Linked DNA regions of Homo sapiens: region 2 is linked to region 1. The links come from fine-mapping of genetic effects on gene expression. A gene starts in region 1. The other region holds a variant in brackets. All regions are shown on one strand. Distances are from middle to middle. Region 1 holds the start of ZNF789 (zinc finger protein 789). Region 2 overlaps ZSCAN25 (zinc finger and SCAN domain containing 25).

Region 1 (15,671 bases):
GTCTGAGACCAGCCTGACCAAAATGGCGAAACCCCATCTCTACTAAAAATACAAAAATTAGCCGGGTGTGGTGGCGGGCACCTGCAATTCCAGCTACTTGGGAGGCTGAGGCAGGAGAATCACTTGAACCTGGGAGGTGGAGGTTGCACTGAGCTGAGATCGTGCTATTGCACTGCAGCCTGGGCGACAAAAGCAAGACTCCATCTCAAAAAATAAATAAATAAATAAAAATAAAATATAAAAACAAAAAAACCATTCTGAGCTCATGGCCAGACAAAAACAGGCCACACGAAATCCAACTCACTGGCCATAGTTTGCCAACCGCGATCTTATCTACTGCTGCTAATTCATATTTCCCTCACTTTATGTGCTCATGAAATACTGTCTTTGTCCTCTGGTGACAGACACTACCTAAAAGATCATCAATACCTAAGAGACATGGACTCCAATTTCTTCACCGGGGGTGATGCTGAATAGGCCAGGCATGTGACATGACCCTGCCTAAAGGTCACAAAGTAAAGGCTGGGATGACCAGCTCACACCGACTGAGTACTCACTGTGGGCCACGCAGCGTTCCAAGTGTCTTTCACATGCTAAATCGATTGATCCTTAGTTCAGAGCTCTTGACCACAGCCCTATGCTTAAACAAAATGCCCCAGTGTTCACTTTTCACAGGTTGTCTCCTTAACACAACTACCGTGTACGACGAATGCTATTATGCCCATTTTACTGAGGGGAAAACAGCTTCCCTCTCATCTATTCTGAACCCCTCTTCATTTCTCTAGGCTGAGATTAAGAATACAGAGGCCGGAGGCCGGGCGCAGTGGCTCACACCTGTAATCCCAGCACTTTGGGAGGCTGAGGTGGGCAGATCACAAGGTCAGGAGATCGAGACCATCCTGGCTAACACAGTGAAACCCTGTCTCTACTAAAAATACAAAAAATTAGCTGGGCGGGGTGGCGGGCGCCTGTAGTCCCAGCTACTCAGGAGGCTGAGGCAGGAGAATGGCGTGAACCCGGGAGGCAGAGCTTGCAGTGAGCTGAGATCGCGCCACTGCACTCCAGCCTGGGCGACAGAGCGAGACTCCATCTCAAAAAAACAAACCAGAGGTCAGGCGCAGTGGCTCACGCTGGTAATCTCAACACTTTGGGAGGTCGAAGCAGGTGACTCACTTGAGGTCAAGAGTTTGAGACCAGCCTGGTCAACGTGGCGAAACCCATCTCTACTAAAAATACAAAAAAAAATTAGCCGGGCGTAGGTACTGGTGTGTGCCTGTAATCCCAGATACTTGGGAGGCTGAGGCAGCAGAATCATTTGAACCTGGGAGGCAGAGGTTGCAGAGACGAGATCAGCTACTGCACTCTAGCCTGGGCGACAGCGTGAGACTCCATGTCAAAAAAAAAGAATACAGAAACGCAGTGGCTCACACCTGTAGTCCCAGCACTTTGGGAGGCCGAGGTACATGGATCACCTGAGGTCAGGGGTTCAAGACTAGCCTGGCCAACGTGGTGAAAGCCCGTCTCTACTAAAAATACAAAAATTAGCTGGGCATGGTGGCCTGCGCCTGTAATCCCAGCTACTCGGAGGCTGAGGCTGGAGAATCGCTTGAACCCAGGAGGCAAAGGTTACAGTGAGCCGAGATCACACCATTGCACTCCACCCTGGGCGACAAGAGCGAAACGCCATCTCAAAAAAAAAATGATAAAAAAAAACCAGAAACTGAGCTAAGACACACATGTGTTAATCAAAACTCTGCCACTATCAGGCTGTGTGACCTCAGAGAGGCCACACCACATCCCGAACAGTTATTTCCCTCATCTGTAAAATGGAATCGACTTTCCCAACAAGGACTCTCTGACAAGGCTACTATGGAGCATCTAGGGCTAACTATTCAAAAACAAACAAACAAAAATCATCAGTGTGCACAGCGGGATGAATGTAGCGATTTACACATGGGTGTCTCGGAAAAGCCTGCTAGTCATAAGGCCGTCCTAGAGAATAAAGTTCATTTACCACGAATCCTCAGGTTTGAATACCAGCTCAGCCCTCGCACGAGTTGTGACCTTGAACAGGTCACCTCGCCTCTCTGATTCAACATATATGCATCGAACCTTACATGGTATCAGGTACAGTCCTAGTCCTGAGCTCCTCCTGGAGCTTCATCTGAGCTTAAGCCTTGGGAAAAAAGGGCAAAAGCTGCGCCTAACATTCAAGTGCAAAGCAACTGGGTCGCAGCGGGAGAGGGAAGCGGCTATTTCTTAGCGGAAAGAGGAACAGTGGCCCAAGGCGGCGCATTCCCAGGCCCAGAAGCGCGTGCCCCAGATGCCTTCACCCTCCACGCCTAACCCGGTTGGCGCAGGCCCTGGGCAGCAGGAAGGCGCGCCTGGGCAGGCGGAGCGGGGTCTGGCGCGCCTCAAGTGAGGTCGTGGCGAAGTGCCTGAGCAAAGGGCAGGCAGCTCCGCAGCTTCCTTCTCTCCCAGTGTGGCTCTGGACCCTGGACCCTGGCTCCTGCTTCCACCACGGAGTCCAAACAGCCTTACCTGGGGCCGGACACTCACCAACTGACGCCATTTTGGAGTCCTGGTGTCCGCTGTGCCGGACCGCGCGAGGGCTGCTGGGTAGGGAATGCACGCCCCATCCAGGGGCGTAGAGCAGAGGCTCACGGGAAGCAGGTCACAACTGCGAACACCCTGGAACTACTAGAAGGCCATGAAGCGAAGGGCGAGGTGCCTGGACAGCAAAAATCCGAGGGTCCTGCAGTTAGAGAGAGGGGCGCCTCAGCCTGGGCTCTCTACCTTAAAAGGTGGGAAGAGGCCGCGCTGGGACTACAAGCGTGCACCAGCACAGCAAGCTAATTTTTGTATTTTTAGTAGAGACAGGGTTTCACCATGTTGGCCAGGCTGGCCTTGAACTCCTTTCCTCACGTGATCCCCCCGCCTCGGCCTCCCAAAGTTCTGGGGTTACCGGCGTGAGCCACCGCGCCCAGTCTATTTTTATTTTTATTTTTTACTTTTCAGACGAGCATTTACTTTTCAGACAGTGGCTTGATCACGGCTGACTGCAGCCTTGAACTCCCGGAGTCAAGCGATCCACCCATCTCAGCCTCCCAAGTAGCTAGGACTACAGGCTCACATCACCACTTCCAGCTTTTTTTTTTTTTTTTTTTTTTTTTTTTTTTTTTTGGTGGAAACAGTGTGGTGAGGAGTGGGGGTAGAGGCTCTCTATTTTGCTCAGGCTGGTCTTGAACTCCTGGCCTCAAGCGTTCTTCCTCCACCTCCGAAGTAGCTGGGACTACAGGTGCACGCCACCACGCCCAGCTAATTATATTTTGTAGAGAAGGCGTCTCCCTATGTTGCCTAGACTGCTCTTAAACTCTTGGCCTCGAGCGTTCCTCCTACCTCGGCCTCCCAAAATACTGGAACTGCCGGCATGAACCACACTGCCCGGGCTACTTCAATTTTGATTATTTTAATTAATTTATTTATTTATTTAGAGACAGAGTCTCGCTCTGTCACCCAGGCTAGAGTGCAGTGGCGCGATCTCGGCTCACTGCCAGCTCCACCTCCGGGGTTCACTCCATTCTCCTGCCTCAGCCTCCCGAGTAGCTGGGACTACAGGCGCCCACCACCACGCCTGGCTAATTTTTTGTATTTTTTTGTATTTTTAGTAGAGACGGGGTTTCAACATGTTAGCCAGGATGGTCTCAATCTCCTGACCTCGTGATCCACCCGCTTCGGCCTCCCAAAGTTCTAGGATTACAGGCGTGAGCCACCGCGCCGGGCCTCCGATTTTTAAAACAACCTCGAGAGCAGGTCTTGTAGTCATAACTTGCCAAATAAATGCCACCCTCGTTCAGTTCATTCTGCTACATTTCTTGTTTCAGAGGTGGCATTGTGGGGCTCCTCCATGTCTGCTTCCCTTCTCCCCAGGCAGTGAAAATCGCATATACAATTATAGGTGTGTGAAAGCACGGCCAGCATCGCCAGTGGGAATTAAAAATGGTTAAAAAAACAAAACAAAACAAACAGGCCAGGTGCGGTGGTTCACGCCTGTAATCCTAGCACTTTGGGAGGCAGAGGTGGGCGGATCACTTGAGGTCAGGTGTTCAAAACCAGCCGGGCCAACATGGTGAAAATACGAAAAAAATTAGCTGAGCGCGGTGGCAGGTGCCTGCAATTCCAGCTACTTGGGAGGCTGAGGCAGGAGAATCACTTGAACCTGGGAAGTGGAGGTTGCAGCGAGCGGAGGTCAAGCCACTGCACTCCAGCCTGGGCGGCAGAGCAAGACTCTGTCTCAAAAAAAACAAAAAACAAACAAACAAAAAAAAACCAGGCTGGTCGCGGTGGTTCACGCCTGTAATCCCAGCACTTTGGGAGGCCAAGGTGCGCGGATCACCTGAGATCAGGAGTTCGAGATCAGCCTCCTCAACATGGCAAAACCTCATCTCTGCTAAAAATACAAAAAGTAGCCAAGCGTGGTGATATGCGCCTGTCATTCCAGCTACTCCAGAGGCTGAGGCGGGAGAATTGCTTGAACCTGGGAGGCGGAGGTTGCAGTGAGCAGAGATGGGGCCACTGCACTGCAGCCTGGGTGATGGAGTGAGAACTTGTCTCCAAACAAACCAACCAACCCCAGCAAATATAGTAGTGTACTGCGGTAGGAGTGTTCTCAACGGTTCCTTGCACCCTTGAACTCTCTGTCTTCAAAGTTTATTTCACTTGCTCCTTGCGGTGTGTGTTGACCATCCACGGTATAATGCGGGTATAATGTAGTCTTAGGAGTTTATTACCCGCCTTGGGCTGCGTCCCTAAGCAACTGAACCCCCAGGAAAAACCCTGCCCATTGCACCAGGGCCTATGTAACTCCCACTCCCCAGGGCTGGGGCAGATGCCAGGGCTGGGGCAGAGGGCCCCGCAGGAAGGATCAGGGATGGGGTCTGCCGGACCCCAGGTGTCAGGTCCTCCGTGGGGCAGGAATCGGCCTGGGGACCTTCCTGGTCCACCCAGGGAATCCTCCTGCAGGGTGCGAGTATGGGACCTGGAAGACTACGAGGGACCGAAGAGACCCGACTGCACTGTGTCCGGGCAGAGGCAGCCTCCGGGAGCTGATGGACTTGAGGGCTGGGGCAGGGGAAGCTGAGGGGGCCGCTGTTCCGTGGGACGTGCAGGAGAGCAGCAAAAGGCAGGAGTGGCCAGTGGCACCCGCGCCCCCGCCCCTTCCCCAGGCCGGACACTCGCGGGGACGCAGAGCCGCCGGAGCCCAGGATCCGCACACTGGAATCCAGGGAGGCCCCGGGAAGAGGCCGGAGGGAAGCTACGCCAATGCCCGATCCCCTGGGGTGGATGGAAGGACTGAGGGCGCAGGAGCTGTGATTTGTATATGTATAAATGCCAACGTTTTAGTTAATGAACTGGGGTTGTTTCGGGGAAGGTGGGGGTGGGTTGGAGGGAGCAGATTATTCCAAAGATAATTTTTTTTTTTTTGGTAAGAGACGGAGTCCCGCTCTGTCGCCCAGGCTGGAGTGCAATGGCGCGATCTCGGCTCCCTGTACCTCCGCCTCCCGAGTTGAAGCGATTCTGCCTCAGCCTCCCGAGTAGTTGGGATTACTGGCACCCGCCACCACGCCCGGCTAATTTTTATATTTTTAGTAGAGACGGGGATTCACCATGTTGGCCAGGCTGGTATCGAACTCCTGGCCTCAGGTGATCCGCCTAGCCTCGGCCACCCAAACTGCTGGGATTACAGGCGTGAGCCACCGCCCCCAGCTTGAACATAGTACTCTTTCGTTGATCTGGCCCTCGTGCAAATTCTTAGTGCTCCCCAAGCAGAGGGCTGGGGAGAAGAGAATCCGGATCCCTGACAACCCCGCCCCAGCCTTCTCTGCTAAGCTGCGTGAAACATTTTCCACTGTGGCTTCCCAAACGTGTCTCCTTAGGAGACTACACAGCCCGAGGCAGGTGAATTTTCCCGAATGACAAGAGGATTATTCCCGAACCCCGTGGTGGCGTCTGCTTCTATCCTGTTTCGTTTACTTTTACACTTCCCTCTGAATTACAAAAGGGAAAAAGAACTCTTTAGGGTCCATCTAAAGCACAAAAAAGTTAGGTTTCCAAGACCTCGTGGCGCAACGGCAGCGCGTCTGACTCCAGATCAGAAGGTTGCGTGTTCAAATCACGTCGGGGTCAAACATGTGATCATCCCTTTCTTTAGCCAACAGGAGTTATAGCTTGCCGGTAACTCTCAACCTTGGACACTGTATTTTCTGTTCTTTAGCCCTAAAGATTTATTTGCGTAGGTACTTCAGCAGTGGACCGGCACCTTAGCTAAAGTGTGAGGAAAAATTCAGAACCAATACTTAGGTCGTGCTGTTCACATCTGTAGCAGGATTTATCAGGACTGTGCCTCAGACAGTACATTCACAGGACTTCAGACAGGACCTTAAAACAGTGCAGGAGCACTTTGGGAGGCTGAGGCGGGCAGATTGCTTGAGCCCAGGAGTTCAAGACCAGCCTGGGCAACGTATCAAAACCGTCTCTCAAAAAAAAAATAAAAATAAAAAAATAAACAAACAAACAAACAAAAAACAACGATAAAAGCAAAAGCAAAAATGCCAGGTGTAGTGGTGCATACCTGTAGTACCAGCTGCTGCTTAGGAGGCTGAGGCGGGATGATCCCTTGAGCGCAGGTCGAGGCTGCAGTGAGCTATCATTGTGCCACTACACTCCAACCTGGGTGACAAGGTGAGACACTGTCTCTAAATGAAAAAATAAATAAAACGGTTCAGAGCTCGGGAAATAGTTGCCTTCCCAATCCAAAAACTACCTGCCCACCCTGGGGGCTGCTATCCTTGGAGAAGCATTGGTGGTGCAGCCTGATCTCCAGCATTTGAAGTTCCAGCACCACTAGCACAAAGCGTTATTCAAAACAAATGAGGAGGAAGTCAGTTGTCTTCCCCGAGCCGCTCCTATGGGACTGCGCTGGCCTGACGTGTCATCCGGCTCCCTCCCCACATTCGTATTCCTGGAACGACCTGCTGGACTGAGTTCCTTGTCCTCTCCCTAGGGGTGGCCAGGCCTGACCTCACTGCCTTCCCTATGTTCAAATGTCTTGAACCTGGAGTACTGAGTGTTCCTGTTTTCTGTTAAAGCCAACAGGAGCCAGGTGCGATGGCTCATGCCTGTAATCCCAGAACTTTGGGAGGTCGAGATGGGAGGATCGTTTGAGCCCAGGAGTTTGAGACCAGCCTGGGCAACATAGCAAGACCCCATCTCTTTTATTTTTTATTTTATTTTATTTATTTATTTATGAGACAGAGTCTCACTCTGTCACCCAGGCTGGAGTACAATGGCACAATCTCGGCTCCCTGCCACCTCCGCCTCCTGGGTTCAAGCGATTCTCCTGCCTCAGCCTCCCGAGTAGCTGGGATTACATACTCCTGCCACCGAGCCCGGCTAATTTTTGTATTTTTAGTAGTGACGGGGTTTCACCATGTTGGCCAGGCTGGTCTCGAACTCCTGATCTCAGGTAATCTGCCTGCCTTGACCTCCCAAAGTGCTGGAATTGCAGGCGTGAGCCACTGCACTCAGCCAACACACATATGTTTATTGCAACACTATTTACAATAGCAAAGACATGGAACCAACCCAAATGCCCATCAGTGGTAGACTGGATAAAGAAAATGTGGTACAAATACACCATGGAATACTAAGCAGCCACAAAAAGGAATGAGATCCTGTCCTTTGCAGGGACATGGATGAAGCTGGTGGCCATCAGCCTCAGCAAACTAACACAGGAACAGAAAACCAAACACAGCATGTTCTCATTCATAAGTGGGAATTGAATATTGAGAACGCATGGACACAGAGAGGGGAACAACACACACCTGGGCCTTTTGGGGAGTCGGGGGTAAGGGGAGGGAACTTAGAGGATGGGTCAATAGGTGCAGCAAACCACCATGGCACATGTAACAAACCTGCACGTTCTGCACGTGTATCCTGTTTGTTTTGTTTTGTTTAGAAGAAATAAAAAACAAACAAAACTTGGGAGGCCAAGGCAGGCGGATCACTTGAGGTCAGGAGTTCGAGACCAGCCTGGCCAAAATGGTGAAACCCCGTCTCTACTAAAAACACACACACAAAAAAAATTAGCCGGGAGTGGTAGCGGGCGCCTGTAGTCCCAGCTACTCAGGAGGCTGACGCAGGAGAATGGCGTGAACCCGGGAGGCGGAGCTTGCAGTGAGCCGAGATCGCGCCACTGCACTCCAGCCTGGGCGAGAGCGAGACTGTCTCAAAAAAAAAAGAAAAAAAATTAACCCCTTACTCACATTAAAACTGTATTTTGGGGGTAATTTACATAAGCCACACAATTATCCTTTTAATTAAGATCTAATATTCTTTTTTTTTTTTTTGAGACAGAGTCTCGCTCTGTCGCCAGTCTGGAGTGCAGTGGTGGGATCTCGGCTCACTGCAAGCTCCGCCTCCCGAGTTCAAGTGATTCTCCTGCCTCAGCCTCCCGAGTAGCTGGCACTACAGGCACGCCGCCACCATGCCCAGCTAATTTTTTTTTTTTTTTTTTTTTTTTTGAGACGGAGTCTCGCTCTGTCACCCAGGCTGGAGTGCGGTGGCGCAATCTCGGCTCACCGCAACCTCCGCCTCCCGGGTTCAAGCGCTTCTCCTGCCTCAGCCTCCCGAGTAGCCGGGGTTACAGGCAGGCACCACCATGCCCGGCTAATTTTATTTGTATTTTTAGTAGAGACGGGTTTCTCCATTGTTGGTCAGGCTGGTATCGAACTCCCGACCTCAGGTGATCCACCCGCCTCGGCCTCCCAGAGTGCTGGGATTACAGGCGTGAGCCACCGCGCCCGGCAATTTTTTTGTATTTTTAGTAGAGAAGGGGTTTCACCATGTTGGCCAGGATGATCTAAATCTCTTGACCTGATCCGCCGGCCTCTGCCTCCCAAAGTGCTGGGATTACAGGCGTAAGCCACCGCGCCTGGCCCATTTTTCTTCTTTTATCTGATAACCTTACTCCCCTCCACAAACACACAGCCAAAGAAACGAATTGTGTCGCTCTTGAATCATAGAATAATTCTAAATTATGTTACGATTAAACAGGAGGGGCGGGGCCCTGTCCATCACGTGACTCTCTCGGTGCTGTCTCCGGCCGTTGATTGGCCTGGGCGGGGAGGGCGGCCGTTGATTGGTTCGGGCCCACTCGCGCGGGCGCCACTCTCTTTGTCTGACAAGAGAGTCGTGAAGCCTCCGCGGTCCTAGAGGGGCCGCTGGCTGGGACGCTTCGCTCGGCGCGCGCAGGTGGAGCCAGCGAGAGGCTCTGAGGCTGCCAGAGTGGTTGTGTCTGTTCCTCCGGTAAGGGGTGATTCGCCGAGGGGCGCGGACCAGACAGACCTCGGGTCAGGCCCGGGAACCCCGAGAGGAGAGCCCAGCCCCTGGTGGAGGCGGCTTGGCGGAGATTCGGAGCCGTCAGCAGGTTTGGGGAGAAGGAAACGAGTGTTGTGGGGGGCGTGGGTGCGGGGGGTAGGCCACTGCGCACACCCCCGGCTCGCAGGGGACGCTCCGGGTTTGTGCGGCGGCTCTCGGGGCCTGTGGCACCAGCTTTTGAGTATTTTTGGCGGTGTCAAGTCTTCGGCAGCGAGAGGAGCAAAGTCCGAAGAATGAATGGATGGTGAACGCCTGGACTTGGTTTTGTTAGAGTGGGAGATGAGCCGTGGTTGTTAGTGGAAGGTGTTCACGTGATTGTGAAGCGGCATTTTGGATTTTGTCAAAAGTTAACAGTCCCCTCCAGTTAAAGTTTTAAGAGTTTATTGTGCATGCAGAGGAACAGCTGGCAAATTGTTCCAATGGCAGCTTGGAAAGCTAAATGAGGAAGTGCAGTGATCTTGATTGTAATTGGCCATTATCAACTTGCATTCCTTCTAGGGTAAGTCGAGCTGGATCAGCCTCGCATCTGTAGCTGATTGGTTCAGTTTATCATGCGGACGAGAAAAAAGCTTCTTTCCTGGTCAGCGCACACTTTTCAGGGAAATAAGGAATTGTTGTTGCTGTTGTGTTTGAGACGAAGTGTTACTCTGTTGCCCAGTTTGGAGTACAATGGGCCAATCTCGACTCACTGCAACCTCCAACTCCCGGGTTCAAGCGATTCTCCTGCCTCAGCCTCTCGAGTAGCGGGGACTACAGGCACGCGCCACCATGCCCGGCTAATTTTTGTATTTTTAGTGGAGACTGGGTTTCACTATGTTGGCCAGGCTGGTCTTGAACTCCTGACCTCATGATCCGCCCGCCTCGGCCTCCCAAAGTGCTGGGATTTACAGGTGTGAGCCACCACGCCCGGCCTGTTGTTTTTAAGAGAGACAGGGTCTTGCTCTGTCACCCAGGGTGGAGTGTAGTGGTGCCATCATAGCTCATTGCAGTCTCCAACTCCTGAACTCAAGGGAGAAATCAATGTATTTTAAATGCCTTACATGGCTGTGGGTGGTTGGCCTAGGGCCGTACCCAAAACATGGACTCCATTTAATTTTTCATTAGCAAGTCTGACATTCAGATGCACAGCCTTCACAAACACATTCAGTAAATATAGTGCAGGGGTGTCCAATCTCTTGGCTTCCCTGGGCCACATTGGAAGAAGAATTGTCTTGGACTACACATAAAATACACAAACACTAAAAATAGCTCATGAGCTAAAAAAAAATCGCAAAACAATTTCATAAGGTTTTAAGAAAGTTTACGAGCCGGGCGCGGTGGCTCACGCCTGTAATCCCAGCACTTTGGGAGGCCAAGGCGGGAGGATCACGAGGTCAGGAGATCAAGACCATCCTGGCTAACACGGTGAAACCCCGTCTCTACTAAAAATACAAAAAATTAGCGGGGCGTGGTGGCGGGCGCCTGTAGTCCCAGCTACTCGGGAAGCTGAGGCAGGAGAATGGCGTGAACCCGGGAGGCGGAGCTTGCAGTGAGCCGAGATCGCGCCACTGCACTCCAGCCTGGGCGACAGAGCGAGACTCCACCTCAAAAAAAAAAAAAAGAAAGTTTACGAATTTGTGTTGGGTTGGATTCAAAGTCGTCCTGGGCCATATGCGGTCCACAGGCTGAGGTTTGGACAAGTTTGGTGTAGAGAATGAAAGGGATGAGGCCTTTGCTCCAGCCTTGGAGCCATTGATCAGGATAGTTTTTAGAGTGTACCTCTTTGCTTAAAAGGCAGAGGGTCCACCCTGGGCAACATAGCAAGGCCCCACCTACAAAAGAACTACAAACAACTGGGCGTGGTGGTGCACTCTTGCAGTCCCATCTGCTTAGGAGACTGAGGCAGGAGCATTGCTTAAGCCCAGGAGTTGGAAGCTACAGTGAGCCATGATTACACCACTGCACTCCAGCCTGGGTGATAGAGGGAGACTCCTCAAAAAAAAAAAGAAAGGCAAAGGGTCTTCTAAACTGTTTTCAGGGAAGGTGAACTGTGTTTGAGGGGCATCCATTAAAATGAAAGTGAATTTCATTAAAATTCATCCTGAGTTAGAAAGCAAGTCTGTAGGCTGGGCGCAGTGGCTCACGCCTGTAATCCCAGCACTTTGGGAGGCTGAGGTGGGTGGATCACCTGAGATCAGGAGTTCAAGACCAGCCTGACCAACATGGTGAAACCCCATCTCAACTAAAAATACAAAAAAGTAGCTGGGCATGGCGGCGGGTGCCTGTAATCCCAGCTACTTCCGGAGGCTGAGGCAGGAGAATCGCTTGAACCCAGGAGGCGGAGGTTGCAGTGAGCAGAGATCACACCATTGTACTCCAGCCTGCACAACAAGAGTGAAACTCTGTTTAAAAAAAAAAAAAAATCAAGTCTGTAATTGTTACTGTTGCTGAATCCTGCTAGCAAATCACCAGGCTAGAGGTGAGGGTTGAGTGACCCCTTTAGAACACTTTCAGAGGGGGCTTGTCAGCAGGTGGAGCTGGCTGTAGGAGCAGGGTTGGAAATACGTAAGTAGATTTAGAGAAAGAAAAGCTGGTGAACTGGAATCCCTAGGATAACTAGACTCGGACATCCTGTGTGATAGGGGAGGGGAGCATTTGGCTTTCTCCTGTTGGTCCTAAATTAAAGGGAGTGGGGAGCAAAATTTTGGATAAAGCTGTTATTGATCAAGTCCTGATTTGGGGCCCATGCCTCAGAGGCTATGGTTTGGCTTCCAGAGCTGGTTGCTGCAGGGTGTGGATCAGAGTGCTATTTTTTCTTTCTTTTTTTTTTTTTTTTTGAGATGGAGTCTTGCTCTGTCACCAGGCTGGAGTGCAGTGGTACAATCTCAGTTCACTGCAACCTCCGCCTCCCAGGTTCAAGCGATTCTCCTGCCTCAGCCTCCCAAGTAGCTGGGAGTACAGGTGCCTGCCACCTCGCCCAGGTAATTTTTTGTATTTTAGTAGAGAAGGGCTTTCACCATGTTGGCCAGGATGGTCTCCATCTTCTGACCTCGTGATCCACCCGCCTCAGCCTCCCAAAGTGCTGGGATTATAGGCGTGAGCCACCGTGCCTGGCCAGAGTGCTATGTTTATATGTGGTCTATCTGCTGTCCCTTTGTATATGAGGTGCAGAGTATGACATGTTCTAGGGAGAAGGGGAGGGCAGGGCTGCAGGTTCTCTTGGATGGAGCTTGGGAAATTGAAATTACTAGACTTATTGTAGCGGCTCATGCATTTCATCACATGTTCCAACACCAAACACAGGGACTTTGTATTAAGCTTTGTCTGTGTGCCCCGTTGGAATTCCGGGTCCCAGATCTGCCAACCAAGAGAGCTTCAAATTAGGGCTGGCCTTACTGACTTTTTTTCTTCTCCAGCTCAGCCAGACGTCCAGGATCCCACCCCTTGCAAAAGACCAGGCCGTGGAAGCCATGTTCCCACCAGCCAGGGGGAAGGTGAGCTGTGCCTCCCCCTCTGCTTCATCAGCATAGTCACTGCCACCAGCAGCTCCTTCCTCAGACTGAGCCCTCTTGATCAATGTGGGGAGTTTTCCTTCTTAGACAGTGCAATGTAGAGAGCTTAGCCTCTGGAGTCACATGGGCTTCCTTCAGTTACATAAACACTCTGGCTCCAGTTTTCTTTTCTGTAAAATGGGTCAGTGAGAGTGCCTATCACAGCGAGTTGTGAAGATTCAATGAAAAACACCCTGTGAAGTCCTTTGTGCAGTATCTGGTTACTCGTTTAGCACTGTGTTAAGTTGTTGCTCTTATTACCGTAGTAGTTGCCCATTGTTTCTGTCTGTGAGCATTATTGTGCACCTACTGCTGTACACTCCAGGTGCTGTTTTCTGTGCTGGGAGATCAACTCTTACCTGTAGGAGATTACAACCTGATTAGAGAGATAGTTGTGTAAGGAACTTCTCATAATAAATTCTGAACTGTTCCTATGAACGGGTATAATGGAAGGTCAGTTATTGAATTTGTAGCATTATGGAGGGTGATTAGAAGAGACTGAGTTGTTTTGTCTTTTTTTTTTTTTGACGGAGTCTCACTCTGTTGCCAGGCTGGAGTGTAGTGGCGCGATCTCAGCTCACTGCATCCTCTGCCTCCCGGGTTCAAGTGATTATCCTGCCTCAGCCTCCCAAGTAGCTGGGACTACAGGCGAGTGCCACCACGCCCAGCTAATTTTTGTACTTTTAGTAGAGACGGGGTTTCACCATGTTGGCCAGAATGGTCTCCATCTCTTGACCTCGTGATCCACCCACCTCAGCCTCCCAGAGTACTGGCATTACAGGCGTGAGCCACTGTGCCCAGCCTGTGTTTTGTCTTTTTTTAGACGGAGTCTCACACTGTTGCCCAGGCTGGAATGCAGTGGCATGATCATGGCTCATGGCAGCCTTGACCTTCCCAGGCTCAGGTGATCCTCCCACCTCAGCCTCCCAAGTAGTTGGGACCACAGGTACATGCCACCACGCCTGGTTACTTTTGTATTTTTTGTAGAGACAGGGTTACACCATGTTGCCCAGGTTGTTCTTGAACTCTTGGCTTGAGCCATCCACCAGCCTCAGCCTCCCAAAGTGCTGGGAATCCAGGTGTGAGCCACCGCGCCCAGCCTAGAAGAGACTGAGTTTGAAAGAAAGGAGAGGACCAGTGGCTCATGCCTGGAATCCCAGCACTTTGGGAGGCTGAGGGGGGTGGATTGCCTGAGGTCAGGAGTTTGAGACCAGCCTGGCCAACATATAGTGAAACTCCATCTCTACTAAAAATACAAAAATTAGCTGGGTATAGTGGCGCATGCCTATAATCCCATCTACTTGGGAAGCTGAGGCAGGAGAATTGCTTGAACCGAGGAGGTGGAGGTTGCAGTGAGCCGAGATCGCGCCATTGCACTCTAGCCTGGGCAACAAGAGCGAAACTGTCTCAAAAAACAAAAACGAAAACAAAAACCCAAACAAACAAAAAATGGAACTTTTAAGCAACATTTGGTGCCCATCTGTCAATGTACAAGTCCTAGCTGTTGATGGGTTCTTGGAAACTGCAACTTTAAGGGAAACTATGTATATCAAAACCGTTTTTTTTCCATCAGTGTTACAGTGAAACAAAGTTATTCAAGGACCTGCTGCTGTACATACTTTTGCTAAAAATCAGTTTCCAAGAACCTATTGTGGATGTTAGGAGAGGAGTTACCATGCCACAATGACTCTGGGAGATGAAGCCATTTTATTCCCATGCTTGTTAACCTTGTGCAGGTGCGGGAATGCAGATGGCTGAGTAGGTCAGATTGAGGACATGGCAGCGCAGCTCTGGTAAAAGAGTGACACTCTGGATAATGGTGAGAAAGGGCCTGCAACCGTAGCAGTGGAACTCAGGTTTGATAGGCAGGAAAGAAAGTCCGTATAATTTGGGAGGTTCTGGTGCCTGCCTGCAGAGGGGAGCTACGTGAAGCTTCTCAGGATGGTCTCAGGATGGGGGTGGGCATTTCCTGTTACTGACCACTTATAGGACAGCGAACGTTTGCCCTTTCCCTGCACACATCCCCTCTGAACCCATGCAGTGTCTTGTGAGAGCAAGGAGTGTGTAGACAGCCGCTGGGCCCCTTTGCCCAGAGGGCTGCAGTGGTGTGGGAGGGAGAGTGTGGCAGCTTCAGTGCTCAGCCCACTGGAGGGGGCAGTCACTTGCAGATGTAATGTCCCCTGTGCTCACTGTGCTGTGTCCACTGTTGCCCACTCTGGATATGCTCCCCAGGCGTCTGCGCCTTGGTCTGTACCTTTTATATTCTCCAGCAACGGGCTCCCCTGGTCTCTGGCATCTGCTTGGCTTGTGGCAATGGGATGAAGAGGGTTGGAGGACAGGGGACAGGGCGCCGGAGGCCTGGGGAAAACTGAGGTTGGGTTTCTCTTCCCACGGCTCCCTCCCCACTGGGCTGTGGGATGGGTGTGGCTGCATCCTGTTCAGCCGCAGCTGGTCTTGCTCCCCTTCCAGCAGCCTTCTGGGCTCCAGCAGCCCTCCCCACCTTACCCCTTCAGACCTAGCAGGCCCTGGTTCCCCAGGGTGGCCAGGACCTGCGAGCTTCCACATTTCTTGTTCATGTTCATTGAGACTATTCATCCCTTTGTAAATAGTCTGCACATTAACCAACCCCCCAGTGACCTCATCTCTTTCCTAAGGAACCTGGGGCAGAAGCAATAGGTTATTTTTATAGAGCAGCGGTCAGCA
Region 2 (11,736 bases), 150 kb after region 1:
GTGCAGGGCTGGCCACGAACCCGAAGAGATCTTGAACCAAAGCAGAACTCTGTGCAAAGTGAAAGTAATCACATAGGACACTTATTTAAAGAATAGTGATGAGCCAGCCTGGTCAACATAGCGAGACCCTGTCTCTACAAAAATTGAAAAGTAGCCGGGCGTGGTGGCACGCGCCTGAGGTCCCAGCTACTCGGGAGGCTGAGGCAGGAGGATCGCCTGAGCCCAGGAGTTCAAGGTTGCACTGACTTACATTCATGCCGCTGCACTCCAGCCTGGGCAACATGGGGAGACCCTGTCTCTACAAAAATAAATAATTAGCTGGTCATGGTGGCACTCGCCAGTAGTCCCAGCTACTCGGGAGGCTGAGGTGGGAGGATCGCTTGATCCTAGGAGGCAAAGGCTGCAGTGATCGCACCACTGGTCTCCAGCTGGGGTGATAAAACCCTGAGATCCTGTCTCAGAAACAAAACAAAAGAGTCACAATGGGTGGGGGGAGATAAAGAATAGCAATGGGGCAATTTCTATTTGTCAAATGGCAGAGATAAAAGATGAATGAGGATCTTTCTTGCCTCCAGGGAATCTGTTAGAGGGAGACACATGGGTAAACATTTGCACTGTAGTGCATTAAATGCACTAGTGGAGTGAACCAATGCAATAGCTAGAAAGGAATGAAAGAGAAATCTCAATGTTGCAGAGTCAATGAATAGACTGAAAATATAAACTTGGTTTAAGTGGGGGTAGATAAATACACAAACTCACAATAGAATATTTAGCAGAAGCTTTGGGGTGTGCCTCCTGCCAGCTGCCCATTCTCTGCTCCAGTCAGGTGATCTTTCCGTTTTCTGACAAGCAGGATCTCCTTCCCCTGGTGCTTTGGACTTCCAAGTCTGTCTTCCCAGTCTAGGTCTTCCGCATAATCCACTTGGAGGTAAATAGGACTCATTCTCCAGTCTACTTCAAGCCTCTTCTTTTCCTTGAGTACTTGGACTTAGATTAGTTTTCTCTCTTTTTGACTTCACATTTTTTTTTCAATCTGTACCATGTATTTTGGGAGGCAGTTATCATCTAGTCTCTTTTTTTTCTTCTGAGAAGTAGGAGGAGTAGCACTCATCCTACAGAAGTGTTTTAAGTATTAGATGAAATATGTGTTCACATGCTTTCTAAAGAGTAAAGCCTGTACAAGTTAGAAATCTTTAGGTCATTTGTCATAATGGTATATATGTTGCTCCATTGTCTTTTTCAGGTTGAGCGCACCATCACATCTAAGCCATCAGCAAGTTTGTTGGTTTTAATCTCCAAAATACGTCTTGATTTTGTCTGACTCTTTGCCACCACCCTGATCTAAGCCCTTATCATCTGCTTGAATCACTGTAAGTGCCATTTCCCTCTTGCCACCTCTAGCCTATTCCCTGTCAACACACAGGCAGAATGACTTTTATAAAACATGTAGTTCCTCGCTAAAGTAAGAAATAAGAATAAAGTTCATAATTCTTTCTGTGGCGCAGGCTCTGGGTGATCTGGTTTCTGTCTGCCTCTGCCACCTCTTCTGGTGCAGCTCTGCTCGTCACTGCTGAAGCCACACTGGGATATGGCTTGTTCTTGGACACCCAGAGTAATTTCTTAGCCTCAGGGCTTTTGCCTGGAATGCTCTTAGAATGACTGACTCATTCTCATCCTTGAGTCAGCCTGGTATCATGTCTTTAGAAAAGCCTTCTTCAAGTCAGTTGCCCCCTGTTAACAGAGCACCCTACTTATTTTCTTTCTAGAACTTGTCTCCACTTGCAGTTTTTAAAAGAGTTGCTTCCATTTGACTTTTTCTGTCTGCTGTACCAGCATATGAGTTTCAGGAGGGTAAGCTCCCAGTGTGTCTTGTTTTCTATTTTATTTGTTGTTTCTGCCTGCCTCTTGTGTGTGTATATGTGTGTGTTTGTGTGTTGCATGTATGTTTCCTTTAGTATTGGAAGAGTAGGCCCTGGTGACTCACCCAGTTATAACCCATTATATATTATTCTCTGATTGTAGTGTTATTCTCCAGTGAGATCCTAAGTTATTTGTGGGTATAAAAGCAAAATCTTAGACATTTTCTGTTTAGTCTCTGTACCTAATAGTTGCTTAGCAAATGATTACTATGTTGAATTGACCTGACTTTTGGGATCTGTGTTCAGTCTTTTGAAAATGCCTTGTAAAAGGTAATTACTGTGTTCTCCAGTGGAATATTCCTTGATGTAGAGACAGAACTGGGATGGGCTGACCTTTCATGTGTCTCTTGTTCTCAAAAGGGTCATTGATGCAGTCATTCTCAGTCTCCTCGGAGGGAGTCTGAAGATGCTTAAAGAGCATCCAGAGATGGCGGAAGCTCCTCAGCAGCAGTTGGGTATTCCTGTGGTGAAACTGGAGAAAGAGTTGCCATGGGGCAGAGGAAGGGAGGACCCTAGTCCAGAGACTTTTCGGCTGAGGTTTCGGCAGTTCCGCTACCAGGAGGCAGCTGGACCCCAGGAAGCTCTTAGGGAGCTCCAGGAGCTCTGTCGTCGGTGGCTGAGGCCCGAGTTGCACACCAAGGAGCAGATCCTGGAGCTGCTGGTGCTGGAGCAGTTCCTCACTATCCTGCCCCGCGAGTTCTACGCCTGGATCCGGGAGCATGGCCCAGAGAGTGGCAAGGCCCTGGCCGCCATGGTGGAGGACCTGACAGAAAGAGCACTGGAGGCCAAGGCGGTGGGTGAGGAGGGGATCCAGGTCTGGCGCCCTTGGCGTGGGCAGGGAATGTTAAAGAATCCAAAGATTTGAGGAAGCAGTAGGAGTGGACGAGGTGTGGAGCCGCCCTCCTCTGCCCTCAGACTCCCTGAGGTTCTTTTTGGAGAGCAGTGGCGTTTTCAGCAAGAAAGGCCATTCCCAGGGGAGATGCTGCCATGCAGAAGGGCCTGAAGCCTCTGTTTGGTCATGAGGGCAGAGGCCTGGCCATATTTCCCTTGTGGGCATCAGGCAAAAAGAAGGCAGTTGTGATTGTTTTTGGGGTCCCTCATAGACCTGACCCTGCTTTGGACAGAGATGCCTCTGGGAAGGCAGAGAATCCCACCTGGGGAATATTTTTCCGGAAAAGGGTTGTCCATGGCAGTACTGTTTCTCTGTGGCTCATAGGGCTCCTGTAACAATTCTCTGGTGCTGCTCTAATGACACCAAGTGATTTGGCACCGCACGTGCTTCCTTGAGGTTCCAGCCATATTTCGGTCACTTTGTGGTACAGCCCCCTGATGGATGACTGGGAAAGGAGAGCAGGACTGATGACACCGTCTTGCTCACAAGCCCCCGTCCTTCTGTAGTTCAGCCTCCCGTGCACACTCTCGTCACCCTGACTTCCTGTCTTCAGAATCCTAAGAGAATTTTTTCCTACTCAACTCAGGAGCTTAAAAGTGGACCCAGAAATGCCTTGTTTTTGTGAGTACTTCTCAGTGAGAGAGTCCTCCTGATTTTTCTTGCTCTTTTTAATTTATTATTTTTGAGACAGGGTCAGTCAACAGCCTAGGCTGGAGTGCAGTGGCACAATCCTAGCTTACTGCAGCCTTGAGCTCCTGGCTCAGTTGATCCTCCCACCTCAGCCTCCTGAGTAGCTGAGACCACAGGCATGCATGCCTGGCTAATTTTTTTATTTTTTGTAGAGATGGAGTCTCGCCATGTTGCCCAGGCTTCCTGGCTCTCTTTAAAGCAACTATTTCTCACTGGCCTGTTCACTGCAGGGTCTAGGCTTTGCATTTTTTATTTTCAGCTTTTTCAATTAGGAATTTTTTTTTCTAGTAGTGAGTATATTGTGTTAAAATCCTCAGCAGGATAATATTTGGGCTTGGTGATGGCAGGTAGAGGGGACCCTTGTCAAATGGCGTGGACAGATAAAAGTTGCTCAGGGCCTGATGCATGAGTTTAGCTTCCTTTTCACTTCCTCACTAATGTCCTGGGGAAGAGCTCAGCTGATTTTTCCTTCCTCTCCCCTGAAGCTGGAATGGTTCTTTTCTTGGTTCTCTTTTTAGATTTTAGTTCAACTCCCTTCATAACAGCCTTGCCCAGGCCTCATTCTAATCGGTGTTGGGAACTGTTCTTAGGTTCCATGCCACAGGCAGGGAGAGCAGGAGGAAACAGCACTTTGCAGAGGCGCTTGGGAGCCAGGCATCCAGCTGGGGCCAGTGGAGGTCAAGCCTGAATGGGGGATGCCCCCTGGGGAAGGAGTTCAAGGTCCAGACCCAGGTACCGAGGAGCAGCTCAGTCAGGACCCTGGAGATGAGACACGGGCCTTCCAGGAGCAAGGTGAGTAAGACGCAGATAGTGGGGATGTCAGGTCATAGGAAACAGTGCTGTGCAGCCAACTCTCTTCAGAAACCCAGCAATGGAGCAACTAAGTTACCCACGAGGTGTAATTGTGAATTTTCTTGGCTACTTCCTCCACCTTAGGAAATAGATGAAGTGAAATTGTTTCTTCTCCCTTTACCCTCTGGTGTCTGGAGGGGATATCTGGGATCATGCTTTCTTATTATTTCTCTTTTCTTTCCCTCAGATCCCTTCTAGAAACTACCAAGAAATATTCAGCTGACTTGCAGGAATACTTTTTCAGTAGGCAGATAAACCATATCCCCCAAAGTAATATGTAGCTTTCTTTCTTTCTTTCTTTCTTTTTTGAGATGGGGTCTCACTCTGTCACCCAGGTTGGAGTGCAGTGGCGCGATCTCAGCTCACTGCAACCTTTGCCTCCTGGGTTGAAGCAATTCTCCTGCTTCAGCCTCCCAAGTAGCTGGGCCTACAGGCATGTGCCACCATGCCCTGTTAATTTTTTTGTATTTTTAGTGGAGACGGGGTTTCACCATGTTAGCCAGGATGGTCTCGATCTCCTGACCTCGTGATCTGTCCACCTCAGCCTCCCAAAGTGCTGGGATTACAGGCATGAGCCACCGCGCCCAGCCCACGTAGCTTTATTTTGTTATTGAATCTCATAGGAGGTTATTCCCAGAGTGTGACTGGGTAGCATGGGTAGCCCTGGACGGACAGGGCCGGGACAATCTTGCCAGCTGAGAACAGGAGACACCCAGGCCCCAGCTGAGAATAGGGCAAGGGACACCCAGGCCCCTGTGCATGGGAAAGTGTGGTACCAGAGTGAAAAGGGATTCTGTCTGGAGTCTTCTGGTTCCTGAGGTTGTGAGCATCTGGTAGGGGACACATTTGAACGAGCTAACAGCATAACATCACTGATCCTTCTGATCTTTCTCATGCTTTTTGTCCCTGCTCAGCACTACCTGTTCTGCAGGCGGGTCCTGGCCTCCCCGCAGTGAATCCCAGAGACCAAGAGATGGCAGCTGGGTTCTTTACTGCTGGATCGCAGGTGAGCTCTGACTCCCTTTGCAGAAATCATGACCGTTGCTTTGATTGAGGTTCACCTTCCCCAAGGTTTCTCTGCACAACAGTGTTCCCTTCCCGCCCCAAGTTGAGTCATTCTCCCTTCCTAGTCCCGGTGGACCTGATGGTGTGGTTTCCTCCACTGAACCATCAGCCGCAGTTGTTAATTTACATC[G/A]AACCTTATGTCTGTCGCCCAGGCTGGAGTGCAGTGGCACGGTCTTGGCTCACTGCAGGCTCCGCCTCCTGGGTTCACATCATTCTCCTGCCTCAGCCTCCCAAGCAGCTGGGACTACAGGCACCTGCCACCTCGCCTGGCTAATTTTTTGTATTTTTAGTAGAGACGGGGTTTCACCGTGTTAGCCAGGATGGTCTCGATCTCCTGATCTTGTGATCCACCCACTTCGGCCTCCCAAAGTGCTGGGATTACAGGCATGAGCCACCGCGCCCAGCCACAGATGGACTCTTACAACTGTTACAGATAGAAACCCCCTAGGGCTATCTAGGCTGTGCTGATTGGCCCCGAGATAACCCTTTGTGGGTGCCGTTTATGGGTACTTCTGCTGCTGATTTTTCTGTTTTGGAAACTTTCCTGTCCCCTAACCTCAGCAGGAATGTGGCTGACTCAGGGTTGGGGCTTTCAGAAGCATTGAGCAGGGTGGTCTCTTTGGCCATACAGGCCACACTAGGAGTTGGACCTCGTTAACATTACTCATCTGCCACAAATGAGGTAACTGAAGCATAGATGGGGTGCTCTCTTTTCCACAGGGTGCTGAGCACTAGTAGCAGGGAGGTGGGGGCTTTCCAGTGGGGCACCTTCCTCAAGGAGGCGAGTCTAAAAGAGTTCTTTGAAGAAGAAAAGGTGTTTGGCAGAAAAAAGAAGGGGATCAAGTCTGGTCCTGCTCAAGCCGTATTTGGGCAAGGCTGGATGCCAGCATCATTTCCCTTTTCCTGTTCTCCAAGGATGTACTTTGGAGGGGATGAGGAATGACATCAGTGCTTTTTAATTTGGTTGGATCCTCCCTTGTACCATAATAGTTCTTCGTGGTGCAGTGAGTGAGAAATTGAGGATGCATTTATTTTATCACAGCCTTGTTCTTAAGACAGGGCTTGGCCGAATGTGAACTTTGTTCTTGATGAGAAGGTAAATAGCGGCTGCCAGGCTCTGTCAAGCATGAGGTGTGAGTGGGAGGCTGCTGCAGAGTGGAAATGAGGTGACTTAGTTGTTAGGGGCAAGCTGAGCCCCAGCCACAGAGGCTCACAACTGCAGTGGCTCAAACAAGTGGATTACTCCCATTCAACTGTTGGGAGGAAGCTGGTTGGGAGGAAGTTGGATTACAGACATGAGCCACTGTCTCTGGCCTAGGATTCTTTCTTTATTCATAGCAATCTCCTATTGTTGCAGGGGTTGGGGCCATTTAAAGATATGGCCCTGGCCTTCCCTGAGGAGGAGTGGAGGCATGTGACCCCAGCCCAGATAGACTGCTTTGGGGAGTATGTGGAACCGCAGGACTGCAGGGTCTCTCCAGGTAAGACTGTCTCCACCCACAGGTGAGGAACTGGGGAGTTCTGAAAGCTCAGGTCAGGGGTCCTGCCGTAGCTCTGGCGCTCCTGGCAAAGGAAGGGGACTTCATGGCAGGCGGGTAAATGGGTCCAGCACGGACCATGGGGCACGAGGAGCTGCTTTCCTGTGTCAATAGAGGAGCCAAATGATGGAGCAGGAAAACATGAGGCCATTATTCTGGCTGTATGGAGACAGGTCGGTCATGAGGACCCCCAAACACCTACATTGTGTCCATGATTAAAGACACTGAGGGCTTGAGAACAAGATACGAACAGCAAAAGATGGGGCATCTGAGCTTGTTCAGATATTTATTGAGTGCTCCCTGCATGTGGGCCCTGTGTTAGTGGTTTTCTCTTGCGGCAGGAAGTGGGCAGGACTAACGTGCACGAAAGCGTTGGAGCTCACGGTGTGCACGTAGGAGGGCACGAGGGGGCTTCGCGATGGGAGAGGTTGGAGTGGCCCGAGTCACAGAGGAAGCAGAGCTGCGCTGGGACTCAGGTGGTGGCTGGGTTTGACCTGGGCTCAGAGCCTGGGGGGATGCGGCCATTGTGTGTGACAGCAGCTCATGGGAGGAGGAGCAGCGAGAGAGAGCCCACAGGGGCTGCCAGCAGAGCGCACTGCGGGGCTTTGGGGCTGCCAGGGCAAGGGACAGTATGGAGAGTCTGCATGCGTGGAATCAGGATGCCGGCGGGGAGAGGAAACACTGTGGCTGGAGCGGCCTGTCCTTGTTCTTTGATTTTCTTCTTTTTTGTTTCATAACTTCTTTGTGAGTTGTACACTGACCACCCATCTGTACCGACCCCACCTAGCCTTTCCTTATCCTGAAATGCCTTGAAGGAAGAGCAAGATTATCCCTGTGCTTCCTTCAGGACGTAAGAGAATCCATCCTGCCCCTCCACTTGCTGACCCTGACCTTGAGCATCTCCCTTGAGCTTTCCAGGTCTCAGTTTCCTCTGTTGTGGAATGGGGCTGTTCATGGAACCTGTCCTCATGGTGCCATGAGGATGAAGGGAGGTGACATATCTAAATGTGTGGTGACCATGGTAGTGTTAGATTGTTTAGTTAGTGCTGTAAGTATTACTAAGGGATTCTTGTAGGAGCCCTCAGCCTTCACTCATTTATTCACCACAGAGGTGGACTTGGCTCTGTGGCCATTGCTGTTCTGGTCACTATGAAGAGTTAAAAATAAAGGCGCTTGCCTGTGGGGTCTTAGAGTTCAGGGGAAGAGGCCATGTGCATGTAATAGTGGGATACGGTAAGGGGCACTGGTCTCCTGGGAGACCTGGGTCCAGGGCACGGTTGACACAGTGTGGCAGTGATGCAAGTGGCAGAAAGATGTCAGCATACTTTATGTGGAGATGTGTGATTGCTGTAACGGCAGAGGATGACAGAACAAAGCAGGGGCTCGAGTGATGAGCCCCAGACAAAGGTGCCAGTGTCCTGGTGCCAGGGTCCCCCTCAGGGATATTCCCCTCCCAGTGATGCTGCTGTGTGGGGTGAGGAGCCCCTCGCCCCCATTCTCAGAAGATTTTCATGCTCTCCTGGCCATTTCTGACTGTTCTGGAGACTGGTTCTGTCCTTGTCCCCTCACCAGCTCAGTGTCTCAGAACTCAGAGCAACTCAAGCCCATACCTGAACATTTCTGCCGCCAGGTGACACGAAGGCCTGTTTCCCAAGTGTACCATTCACTTGCTGTCCCAGCTTTCAGGTCTTCCTGGGATTCACACTCGGGTTGTCCTGGTGCTTGTACTGACAGCTGCTTGGGGCTGGGCCTGAGCTGCTTCACCTGTAAAGAGACTGAATGCACAGGGCAGGGTTGAGCTAGGTGGCTGCCCAGATCACTTCCAGTTGTTCGTCTGTTCTCATTAGCAGACGGTGAGGTGCAGACCTTGTTGTCTGGGTTGTAATTGCAGTAATGTCCACAAGGACTGGAGCAAGAACTCACAACAGGATTTGGAATCACAGAGGCAAAAAGTAGCAGGTGCAGAAACCTGAATGCAGGACTCTGCAGGCTGGTTCCCAGGATGGTGAGGGTCCTGGAGTGAAAGATGAGTGCTCAGAGGAGTAAGGAGGAGGCAGGAGTGAGTAGAGTGAGGCCGCTGAGGAGTCCGTGAGGACTCTGGGTCCTTGTTTAAAAATTTTTTCTGCGCAGAGTAATGTGATGGAGGTTTTACTTGAGGAAAATTGGATTGACGGCAGGGTACGGCCAGTCTGGAGGGTTGAAATAGTGTAGGCACTGGGGTAAGAGCAGGAACCAGGCCAGTGGTCATGTAGAAGGGGGTTTACTGAAATATGCTTCCAAGGATGGGCCACAGATTGGCCAGAGGGGAGGAAAGAGAAGAGTCAGAGAGGAGTCTACGTCTTAGGATCCTGGCTAAGGGCCTGGAAAAATTATGTTACTACTGTCAGAAAGAGAGGGAAGCATTTTCCTAAGAGGGAGGAAGAATGGAAAGTTCCATTTGTTGACTTTGAGATCTAAGTGGATGGTCCCTGGAAGTAGCTGCAAGTCAGGTACATGGTCTGGGAGTTAAAATAATATCATGAACCATTGCATTCCTGCTCCATGTGTGCAGTAAACTTCATGAGTGTACAATCCATTTTGAAGGTGGTGAATGTAAGGCTCAGAGAGGTTAATTGATTTTCCCATGATCACACAGCAATTGAGCAGCCAGTGCAGCACTCAAAACGGGTTTCTCACTGCTAGGTCCCTTCTCTTCCACTACTGTGTCTTTCTCCCAGTGTCTCTGTTTATACTTAGGTATCATTGTATTTATTTTTCCCCCAGCTTTATATTTTGAACTCTTATTATACAAATTTTCAAACATACAGAAAAGCTAAGACTAGTACAGGGAACACACTTAGGTCTTTATCTACATTCACCAATTGTTAACATTTGCCATATTTAGCTGTATAATGTGTGTTTTGTTTTGGAATGATATGGAAGTTGGAGGCATCTCAATCTTTCATTTGTAAATACTTCAGCATTTGTCTAACAATGACATTCCCAACATAGCCCAGTAGCATAATTTCATCTAAGAAAATAAACATAAATTCGATATATGTAACATCTAGTGCATAGTCAGCTTTCCCCAAGATCTAGTTGTGGTTTGTGCATTGCATTTAGTTTTAATCTTACTATTCATAACACCTCAAAACTGAAAACTACCCAAATGAACAACAGTCAAATTAATAAGTAGGTTGCAGTCTATCTGTATCTGTATATCTATCTATATATACATACACACACACACATACATATACTCAGTGGAATACTGTATACCAATGAAAAAGAATAAACTACAGCTTCACACCATGATATAGGTGAACGTCACAAACATGATATTGAGTAGAAGAAGCCAGAAACAATGTGTGAGACAATTACCTGAAGTTCAAGAACAGGCAAAAAAGTCCAGACAATGTGTTCCCGTTGGTATAGTATATATGTATACTATATACGTATATCATGTATATGCTGTATACGTATATCTCGTATATGCTGTATACGTATATCTCGTATATGCTGTATACGTATATCGTATATGCTGTATACGTATATCTCGTATATGCTGTATATGTATATTGTATATACTGTATACATGTATATGCTGTATATGTATATACTGTATATGTATAGTATATATATGCAGGGTATAGTGATGGAGGAGATGTAAAAGGGGCTTCTAGGGACTGGTTATGTTCTGTTTGTTGAACTGAATGCTGTTTACGTGGTTGGGTTCGTTAAGAAAATTCTTTGCATAGTGTGTGGTGACGCACACCTGTAATCCCAGCACTCAGTGAGGCAGAGGCAGGAGGGTCACTTGAGCCCAGGAATTCGAGACCAGCCTGGGCAACATAGTGAGGCCCCCATCTCCACAAAAAGGAAAAAAAGGGTAACGTGACATTTTTTAGCCAGCGCTGGATCCAAAAAAATAAAAATAAAATCTTTGCGTGTACAAAACATAAATGGCTTGTACACTTTTATTTTCATGAAAAGTTTACAAAACAAAATCCAAGCTGATAAGTATGTATTTCATATTTTATCAAACCAGGAGGCATATACTGTCAGGTTTTTTTTGTCTTCTAGTCATCTTGCCTAAAAGGACTCTTCCGCTTTAAGCACCACTTATTTCTCCTTTTCTTTTTTTCTCTTTGCCTCTTTGTTCCCCAATACCTTTTCTTTTCTTTTTTTCTCCTCCCCTTTCTGTTACTCTTCCATAAACACCTGTTCCGTTAATTTAGAGAGAATATAAGAAGGATCAGAGTGAGGATGAAGGAAGGGTGAAGCTGAGCATTTCAGCAGCGTCATGGTCTCAGTCCTGATAAATATGCTACCTAGGGGCGTTCTCCTGCAGGAGCCTCAGTGAAGCCTGCTTCATTCATTCAGCCAGCAGTTAGCAAGCATCTTCCCTGAGTCAGTCCCCTGCCAGGCTCCTAGGAGACCCAGATGAATGAACCTGGTTAGGCAGAGGGAGCATGTGGGCAGGACAGGGGACTGAGCAGGCACCTGGAAGGTCTGGAGAGCTGTGTGCTGCCCTGTGCTACAGCAGGTGTAGAATCGTTTGGGGAAGGCGCAGGACATCTGGATGAATGGAAACAGCATTTCCAACAAAGTCACATGTAAATAGGTACAGAATAATAAAGTGCTAGTTAGGTGCACAGTGCTGAAGAGGCCCAGAGTAAGAGAATAATCGTGGTGAGTGTCTTAGAGGAAATTATTGAGCTACATTTTGTAAGAAGTAAAGGTCTAGATTAGCAGCAAGATAAGTGGGCGGGCACTGGAATTTGGCAGACTATTCTGTAAA

The links.
Region 2: its variant is fine-mapped to the expression of ZNF789 in whole blood (TOPMed, PIP above 0.99).

The regions. Positions count from the first base shown.
Region 1 is chr7:99,463,570-99,479,240 of GRCh38, forward strand. It overlaps ZNF789 (zinc finger protein 789), which reads left to right and starts at 9,321. Exons shown (of 5, transcript NM_213603.3): 1 at 9,321-9,487; 2 at 12,834-12,911. The coding sequence starts at 12,888. It overlaps TRW-CCA5-1 (tRNA-Trp (anticodon CCA) 5-1), which reads left to right and starts at 6,115; the gene lies at 6,115-6,186. ATP5MF-PTCD1 (ATP5MF-PTCD1 readthrough) reads right to left here and starts at 2,598. Exons shown (of 9, transcript NM_001198879.2): 1 at 2,560-2,598. The coding sequence starts at 2,572. ATP5MF (ATP synthase membrane subunit f) reads right to left here and starts at 2,598. Exons shown (of 4, transcript NM_004889.5): 1 at 2,542-2,598. The coding sequence starts at 2,572. RefSeq lists enhancers at 1,767-2,384, 2,385-3,000, 8,561-8,720, 8,941-9,030, 9,321-9,610 and 1 more.
Region 2 is chr7:99,617,282-99,629,017 of GRCh38, forward strand. It overlaps ZSCAN25 (zinc finger and SCAN domain containing 25), which reads left to right. Exons shown (of 8, transcript NM_145115.3): 2 at 1,244-1,370; 3 at 1,767-1,851; 4 at 2,280-2,712; 5 at 4,092-4,293; 6 at 5,268-5,359; 7 at 6,776-6,899. The coding sequence starts at 2,326. Among named protein-coding and RNA genes, the nearest start is that of ZSCAN25, 6.2 kb to the left of the region's middle. The variant G/A (reference allele first, on the strand shown) is at 5,549.